Regions from separate parts of the Homo sapiens genome. Here region 2 is linked to region 1. The links come from fine-mapping of genetic effects on gene expression. A gene starts in region 1. The other region holds a variant in brackets. All regions are shown on one strand. Distances are from middle to middle. Region 1 holds the start of IGHMBP2 (immunoglobulin mu DNA binding protein 2). Region 2 has its middle 11 kb from the start of MRGPRD.

What was found. PIP is the estimated chance that this variant, and not a neighbour inherited with it, causes the effect.
Region 2: its variant is the best candidate, but not a certain one, in a credible set for the expression of IGHMBP2 in cerebellar hemisphere (GTEx, PIP 0.72).

The regions. Positions count from the first base shown.
Region 1 is chr11:68,901,805-68,906,195 of GRCh38, reverse strand. It overlaps IGHMBP2 (immunoglobulin mu DNA binding protein 2), which reads right to left and starts at 2,305. Exons shown (of 15, transcript NM_002180.3): 1 at 2,158-2,305; 2 at 1-127. The coding sequence starts at 2,243. It overlaps MRPL21 (mitochondrial ribosomal protein L21), which reads left to right and starts at 2,364. Exons shown (of 7, transcript NM_181514.2): 1 at 2,364-2,473. The coding sequence starts at 2,386. RefSeq lists enhancers at 1,823-1,882, 2,213-2,332, 1,764-2,491.
Region 2 is chr11:68,989,364-68,993,754 of GRCh38, reverse strand. No RefSeq gene overlaps it. Among named protein-coding and RNA genes, the nearest start is that of MRGPRD, 11 kb to the right of the region's middle. The variant A/C (reference allele first, on the strand shown) is at 1,582.

The DNA of each region.
Region 1 (4,391 bases):
TCGCCTGGGCTCAAAGGTGACCAGCAGCCGTCCGTACAGCCCAGTGCGCTGGCTGGATACCTGCAGCTTCAGCAAACACACGCCTCGGCTCTGGAGCTCTTTCAGAGAGATGTTCTCCTGCCAGGACCTGGAAGACACCCGGTATTGATGCTTCAGGATTTTTACTAGTTTCTACTTCCACCCACCCAGGAAAAGTAAAAGAGAAAGAAACATAGATAAAGATCTACTCACAGGCACTAAATATGTCCCAATGGAACTCCGAATTGGCTCCACTCCCAATCCCGCTCCTCCTACATCCCCCTAGGGCAGTTAATGCCACAACCCTTCTCTCAGTTACCTGAGACAGATCTTTCAATCAGCATTCCCCTCTCTCCTCCCATCTGTCACTAAGTCCTATCAGGCCCCTCCCATTTCTACCTGGACTTCTCTGCCTCTCATCCTGGCTGCCACAGCCCCGGTTCAAATCCACATCACTGCTCACCTGGACTAAACAGAGCCTCTCAACTACCTTACCTCTGGCCTCTCCACGTCCAATCAAAAGCAGGAGACCCAAGAAATCCTCCTAAAATGCAAAGCTATTCGCCTCCCTCACCTGCTTAACCCCGCTGATGGCCCATCCTTCATACACAGAACAGAAGACTAGCTCCTTAGCCAGGCCCTTCCCAGGCTCGCCCTGCCAGTCTGCTCAGCATCCTCAGAAAGAGCCACTGCCATGGGGGCTGACTCTGTCCTTGGCACCACGCTGAGCACCTGACTGACAGGGGATCGTTTCATTCTCAGAGCAAGCCTGTGAGGTGGGAATCATCCCAGTTTTACAGATGAAGTAAGTAAGGCTCAGAGACAGAACCTGCAAAGTCACACAGCCATAAATGAAACAGCTGGGATTCTAAGAAACTCAACATAACTGCAAAAGCTCTCCATTGCCATGATCAAAAGCATCTCAGACAAATCCTACCCACATATGGCTGACTGCAAACTCTGGAAGCAGACTGCCTGACAGCAAATCGGGCTACACTGTGTCACCCCGGGGCAAGTTACTTAACCCCTCTCTGTCTCCATCTCCTTAGACGGAAAATGACAGTAACAGAAACCTACACTGCGGCCGGGCACGGTGGCTCACGCCTGTAATCCCAACACTTTGGGAGGCCAAGGCGGGCAGACCACGAGGTCAGGAGATCGAGACCATCCTGGCCAACATGGTGAAACCCTGTCTCTACTAAAAATACAAAAAATTAGCAGGACGTGGTGGCGCGCCTGTAGTCCCAGCCACTCAGGAGGCTGAGGCAGGAGAATCGCTTGAACCCGGGAGATGGAAGCTGCAGTAAGCCGAGATCGTGCCACTGCACTCCAGCCTGGGCGACAGAGAGAGACTCTGTCTAAAAAAAAAAAAAAGAAAAAGAAAAAAAAGAAACTTACACTGTAGGGTTGGCATGGGATGAGGTGTAAAAGAATTAACGCATGGAAAGTACGTAAGTGTTAGCTCTGATTGTTTTGGACAAGTAAATAGTCCCATTCGGAAACAAGCCCGGCTCTCACATGGCTCCCCACACCTCTCAGGACGGCTCCCCACCCTACTCCGCACCCACCAGCTTAACTCCAATTTTCCTTCAGGCACCACTCCCTCCTTGAAGCCACCATGACCCTCCCCAGGGAAGGGCCTTCCTCCTCCAGGCTCTTTCCCCGCGACACGCACGCAGCCGGCCCTGGACGCACTGGAGGGGAAGGGACTCTCTGCTTATGCCCAGCCCGCCGCTGGCCGGATCGGGGGCAGCCAGTGCACCTGACTCATGCTGCCGGGGCCTGACTGAGAATGGGCGCAAACCATGTTTACTGAATGAATAAGGGAAAGGGCTGCTAACTCGCTGCGGGTGGAACTGGGGTCGGGGCCAGGGCCCAGGAGTGTAAGCTTAGTGGGGGGTCTCGGGTCGGGAAATCAAAGTGCTTCTTAAGGGTCCCCAAACGGAACGCGCTGCCCAGGAAGTGATGAGACTGACAACTCGGGAGGTGGCCAAGCAGGGGACGGACGATCCCTGCCCCTGACTCGAAGGGTCGGAGACGAAATTCCCGCCCCAGACTATGAGGCCGAGCCCCTCGGAGACTCTGCCCGGGACACGGCGGGACCGACCGCGAGGGAGCGGCGCCGGCGGCCTCCCGTACCTGCGCTCCTCCACCTCCGCGTCTCTCTCAAGCTCCAGCAGGTCCAGTTGCTTGGTCACGAAGCTCTCCACAGCTGCCGAGGCCATCGCCGCCGCCGGCCTGGGCCCCTAGAAGCCGACGTCCCGCTTCTGCGCCGGGCCGGTGTTACAGCGGACCGGTGTTCCCCGCCGGGCCCGTGCGTTACGCACGCGGTTCGCGTCGTTTCCGTTTCCGGCCGAGGCTGCGGCCATGGCAGCATCTTCCCTGACGGTCACCTTAGGGCGGCTGGCGTCCGCGTGCAGCCACAGCATCCTGAGACCTTCGGGGCCCGGAGCAGGTGAGACCTGGGATATGGGAGGAAGGGAGGACGCAGAGCGAGCGCTGCTCCCTGCGGTCTCGCCACGTATGTGCCTGGGTCCGACCTGGTGCCTTGTGTGTTGATCGCATTTGTGGTGAATATAGCACGGGTTTTGGAGTCGGGGGAACCCAGGTTCAGATTTTGATTCCTTCAGTTAGTAGCCTGAATACTGACAATAGCCCTTGAACTTTGGTATAGGCCCTATGTTATGGGGGAGAAGAGTGAGGCTCAGAGGAGCTAGGTAACGTGCCCAGGGTCACACAGCGGGGAAGTGGAAGAAGAGTACTTCAGGCGCAGTCATTTCGGCTCCAAAGCCTGTGCTTGAACCACTGCCCCCAGGCTGCGAGCTGGTCTGAAAAATGGTGATGGATATCCTCGCCTAATCTGAACTCATTCTGCAAAAGAAACAGCCGTATTTAAGGCGCTGGGCTGATACGAGGCTCCAAAAAGGTTATGTCCGTTAAAAACTCTATAAATCTCTGCTTGAAAATGGTTGGAGTGTGTATTTGTGTGCATGAGTGTTTATGTATGTTTTAAACCTGGGTTTCATGTCTCACCATGACCCCCAAAAATGGAAAACTGGATCTAACTCTATATTGGACGATATTAAAAGAATAGTACCATAATTCCCAAAACTTGGAAGCAACCCAGATGTCCTTCAGGAGATGAATGGTTACATAAACTGTAGGACATCCATACAGTAGAATATTATGCAGCAATAAAAAGAAATGAGTCATGAAGAGACATGGAGGAAACTTACATACATGTTACTAAGTAAAAGAAGCCAACCTGAAAAGGGGACATCTTGTATGTTTCCCACTATGACATTCTGGAAAAGGCAAATCTAAGGAGACAGTAAAAAGTTACATGGGGGGTAAGAGGATTGGGGGAGAAAAGGATAAATAGGTGGAGCTCAGAGGATTTTTAGGGCAGTGAAACTATTCTGTATGATATAATGGTAGATACATGTCATTATAAGTTTGTCCAAATCCATAGAATGTACACTACCAAGGGTGAACCCCTAATGTAGACTATGGACTTTGGATAACAATGATGTGTCAATGTAGGTTCATCAATTGTAAAGATTGTACCACTCTGGTGAGGGATGTTGATAGGAAGCTGTGGGCACATGGACAGGGGACATATGGGAACTCTCTGTACCTTCCACTCAATTTTGGTGTGAAACTAAAACTGTGCTAAAAAATAAAGTCTATTAAGAAATTAATAATAATCACAGAGTTGGGCCAGAGGCAATGTAGATGCCAAAATTGGCCATGAGTTGGTAACTGTTGAACCTGGAAAGGGATAATTGAGAGAGTTCACTATTCTGTTCTCTTTACTTTTGTATGCTTGACATTTTCCATAATAAAACTTAGGTTTAAGTAGGCAGGAAAGTTTTTACAAAAGCAGTGGGACTTACTCCATTCTACCTACCTACATGAAACCACCCCTCCAATGCTATGTTCAAGTACAGACTCACGCATTAGGAGAGAAAGACACACAGTGAAGCGAGTAGAGACAAGGTGACCAAAACAGTGAGCAGCTGGGGCCTTGAAGAGTGAGCAAAGGAGACGTGATGGAAGTACACAGTCACAGTCTCTAGGACTACCTAAAGGAAATCCTGTGGGAGAGGAAGGAGACTGTTTGTTCCCTGGGGACCCAAAAACAAAGCTAGAAGCAAATTAGGTACAGAAGCCTGCTAAGTTTTTAATAGTGGGATGGATTTGCCAATGGGTTGACTGAGTAGTGTGCGAGAGAAGAGTCAAAACTGATGGAGGTTTGGGGCCTGAGCAACTGGGAGGATGAAGTTGCCCTCATGTGAGAGGGAGGAGTGTGGGAGAAGCAGGCATGGGAAGAAATGAGGAGCCTCTGGAGGTGTGAGGTGCTCGTCAGACAC
Region 2 (4,391 bases), 88 kb before region 1:
TTACTACCTGCAGGCATGGTACTACGTGTTAGGTTTTGTTTTGTTTTGTTTTGTTTGTTTGTTTGAGACGGAGTCTCGGTCTATTGCCCAGGCTGGAGTGCAATGGCGTCATCTGGGCTCACTGCAACCTCTGCCTCCTGGATTCAAGTGGTTCTCCTGCCTCAGTCTCCCGAGTAGCTGGGACCCACCAGCTACTCAGTGCCCAACAGGCACCCACTACCACGCCTGGCTAATTTTTGTATTTTTTAGTAGAGACAGGGTTTCACCATATTGGCCAGGCTAGTCTCGAACTCCTGACCTCGTTGATCCACCTGCCTCGGCCTCCCAAAGTGCTGGGATTACAGGTGTAAGCCACTGTGCCTGGCCTAGTGTTAGGTTTTTTAAAGGGGAGGTGAGGGTTAAGGAAAGACACACACACACAGAGAGAGTGGCGGCTCTACAGGAAACGCAGGTATATTGTAAAAACCTGCGGAGGTGGGGGACCAGCTTGATGCCAGAGCCCACCACCGCTTACAGGCTGGGGTACTTATAGGTATGGGTGGGAGGGGTCTGGGCAATATGGCTTGCTGCCTGGCAGGATATTGATAAGATCATGGGGGTGTTGCTTGCACTTTCTCCCAGCAGAATATGATAAGAGGCAGGCTGTTTCTCACAGCCCAAATCCCCGTGGAATGTTTCACTTTCACCAGGGTCTGCGCAGTGGCAGGGGGCTTACGAAACGGTGCAGCTGGACTCACACTAGGGACCAGGTGGACAGACAGAGGGATCAAGTCAGACGCGGTGCCCACCCATCCAGCCGACATGCTGGCTGAACTCACTCCATCTGCAGAGACGAGGGAAGGAGGGCCGGGAGTTCAGGAGTTCATTAAGCGCTGCGGGGCGCTTAATCCAGGGGCCAAGCCACAAACATTTATTGAGCACCACTGTATGCCAGCCCCTGATTCAGGGGTGGCAGAGACACGTACTCTCCCCCACCCTCCACCTCCCCACTCACCCCTGCATCCTGAAGCTCACGTCACTGCAGAGAAGCCAGGCATCTCCACTGATGTGGCCAGTTTTCACGTATGTGTTGGCTTTTACTAGAAAATAGCCACAGCTCATTATTCTACTTCGGCTGGGATAAGGGCTCCTGTCTCTCAACCCCTCCACCCCAAGTACCTCTTCCTTTCCTCAGCCCCAATACTTGACACTCTCCTGCTATCAAGGAGCAAGAGGATGCCAGGGAGTGTCACCTCCCCCCCTCAAGTCCCTGGCTGACCCACGCCTGGTTCTGCGCCTCCTCCTGATGATGTTGATGTCTCAGCTCCTAGCTGGCCAAGCTCCCGACTGTGGGCTAGGTCCCCTCTCCTCTCGACACCTCCCCAGGAAATCATTCCTGCAGCTGCGGCCTCTCCCACGCATCAGGAGTCCCCTGTCCACTGAATCACTATCCTCGAATACAGCACACAATCACGTCGTTCCAGTAAATGGAGAGATCAGCCTCCCTGTCATTTCTCTGTTCCCCTACCCCACCCATGACCACACATTCCTTCGAATGTCACCTGCACTCTCTCAGGGGTCCCTGCAGCTGAGCATCTCCCC[A/C]CCGGGAGGGGTCCTCTGGGGCCATCTCCCTAACACACGCCCCACCTCCAACCCTTATCCCTTTGCAACCCATCAGGGTTCCGCATAAAGGCCCCCATCAAGGCCGGGCACGGTGGCTCACACCTGTAATCCCAGTACTTTGGGAGGCCCAGGTGGGCGGATCACCTGAGGTCAGGAGTTCAAGACCAGCCGGGCCAACATACTGAAACCCTGTCTCTACTAAAAATACAAAAATTAGCTGGGCATGGTGGCGTGTACCTGTCATCCCAGCTACTGGAGAGGCTGAGGCAGGAGAATCATTTGAACCCAGGAGGCGGAGGTTGCAGTGAGCTGAGATCGCGCCACTGCACTCCAGCCTGGTGACGGAGCAAGACTCCGTGTCAAAAAAAAAAAAAAAGGCCCCCATCACAGCTCTCGCCATCACCCTCACAGGTGCCAGGCTGAAGCCACCTTGCTGTCCCTGCTCAGGGACCGTCTCTCCTGCAGAACGGCATCCACAGGTGCAAGGAGGGGCCTGTCTCTTTCTCTCCAGCACCCTGGTACCTGGAATAGCCCCTGACACACTGCGGGCCCTTGGGAAATGTCTGCAAGGGGCTCCCTGGTGACCCCCAAGAGGAAGCCAGGCGCCCTGAGGGCCTCTGAGCCCCACTGGACATCACCACCCTGTCCAGACACCCAGAGCAGAGTGGGGGATGGGGAAGGTGGCAGGTGGGGGACAATGGCCTGGGAAGACCCATCAGAAGTATAAGTACAAGGACCGTGGGACAGCAGCATGTGTCTGCACCCTCCTCTCTCAGAGCTTCGGGGCCCCTGGTCTCCCTTCCCCACAGAGCACTGCCCAAACACCCCTGAATCCACATGGAGTAGACCCGCGTCGTCCTGCAGCGGTCATGTGGGTGCACAGGTGACCCAGAGGCAGAGGCCAGGCTCCATGGCATTAGAAGGGGGTTCCCCAACAAGCTGGAGAGGGATCAGGCAGCCGGTGCCCAAGCCCGCCTGGGAAGGGCCTGACCCTGGTACCCAGCCACGTGCACGCACACTTCTCCTGCAGCCAGCACCCCGCTCCCTCACCTGGCTCCCCCCAGCTCCCCTTCCCACCTGAGTCCTACCCTCTGAGTCCCTCACCTTGTTAGACACACCCTGAGCTGTAGGGTAGGACTGCCTTTAACTGTGTGTTTCCTACCCACAACTGTGAGTTCGTGGTCATCGTTATATATGTGCTCGGTGTGTCCGTGTACATGGGTATACATATATGTGTGTTTACTGTGTATAGGTATATGTGCTGTGTATAGAGCTATGTGCTCTATGTGTATATATGTGCTACATATGTATATATGAATATATGCTATGTGTGATATGTATATATGTCTATGTGCATATGTGTGTGTGCACTATTATATATGTATATGTGTTTTTATATATATGGAATGTATGTATCTGGCACATAGTATGAGTTTGGTAAATGTTTAAATCTGTTTTAAACCTGAGGGGACATTTCCAATTATAGTGACCTGTGGAGATTGGTAACTCTGGGACATGGGTCTGTGCTCCCACCGTGGAGACCAAAAAATGTTGGAGAAAACACAATTCCCCTCCCGCCCCACCCAAATAAAATACTGAGTAGAAAGATGACAGACAGGAAGAGAAATCTTCAGGTGCCACAAATGAATCAGCAACCAGAGCTGACGCCGGGGGCCCAGGGTGCACCAGATGAGACACAGGCTCCAGGGGCTAGGGGTGGGAGGGCTAGAGGTTAGGAGGTGGTCTTGGAGTGCATCAAGTTGGGGAGGGAGTTTGAACAGGGGAACTTGCATGAGGCCAGGGCCCAGGGAGCTGCCCAGAGGAAGCAGTGTTCTGCCCAGGGTGCTGTTAGGAGCTCCACCCCACCTGTAACTGGGTGTGTGGATGTGTGGGCGTGCAGGTAGAGTTGGGCACCAATTTGAGTAGCTAGAGCCCCAAATTTGCACCATTCACAGGTGTAGGATCTGAATTTACTACCACTTGCATGATGCCAAATCTCCTAGCCAAGAAATCCATCAAAAACCTGGTCCTGGACCTGTGAAATCCTTTGAATATCCACAGAGGCCAATGCCAAATGCCTGGGTAGCAAAACCTTTATGACAACGTGGGGCTCTCACAAGAAAAAGTAATGATATCCCTGTAGAAGGAAACCGGTAATTGCAAACTTAAAAATAAAAAATAAAGAGCCAGTCACGATGGCTCACGCCTGTAATCCAGCACTTTGGGAGGCTGAGGTGGGCAGATCACTTGAGGTCAGGAGTTCAAGACCAGCCTGGCCAACACGGCAAAACCCCATCTCTACTAAAAATACAAAGATTAGCCGAGCATGGTGGCACATGCTTGTAATCCCAGCTACTTGGGAGGCTGAGGCAGGAGAATTGCTTGAACCCAGGAGGCGAAGTTTGCAGTGAGCCAAGATCATGGCCACTGCACCGGAGCCTGGGCAACATAGTGAGACTCAGTCTCAAAAAAGAAAAAAATTAGTAAGGATGAAGAGGACCACTACATAAAGGACACAGTTCCTCAGTGTTATCAAATAATCTTGGATTTGTAGTCACTTAACAAAGTTTCAAAATAGGTGGAAGACAAAATGACAAGACCTCAGTCATAATGGGTTGATATTTATAGCAGACAAATTAATAAAGCTACAGATAATGCAAATAACATAATTTTAAAAACATAGTCAAATGGATATAGAAAGAAAATAGAAATTAACCATCCATTAGGCTTCAAAATGCATCTCAACAAATATCAAAAAACTGACCACGTTATCTGACCTTCTTGCAATG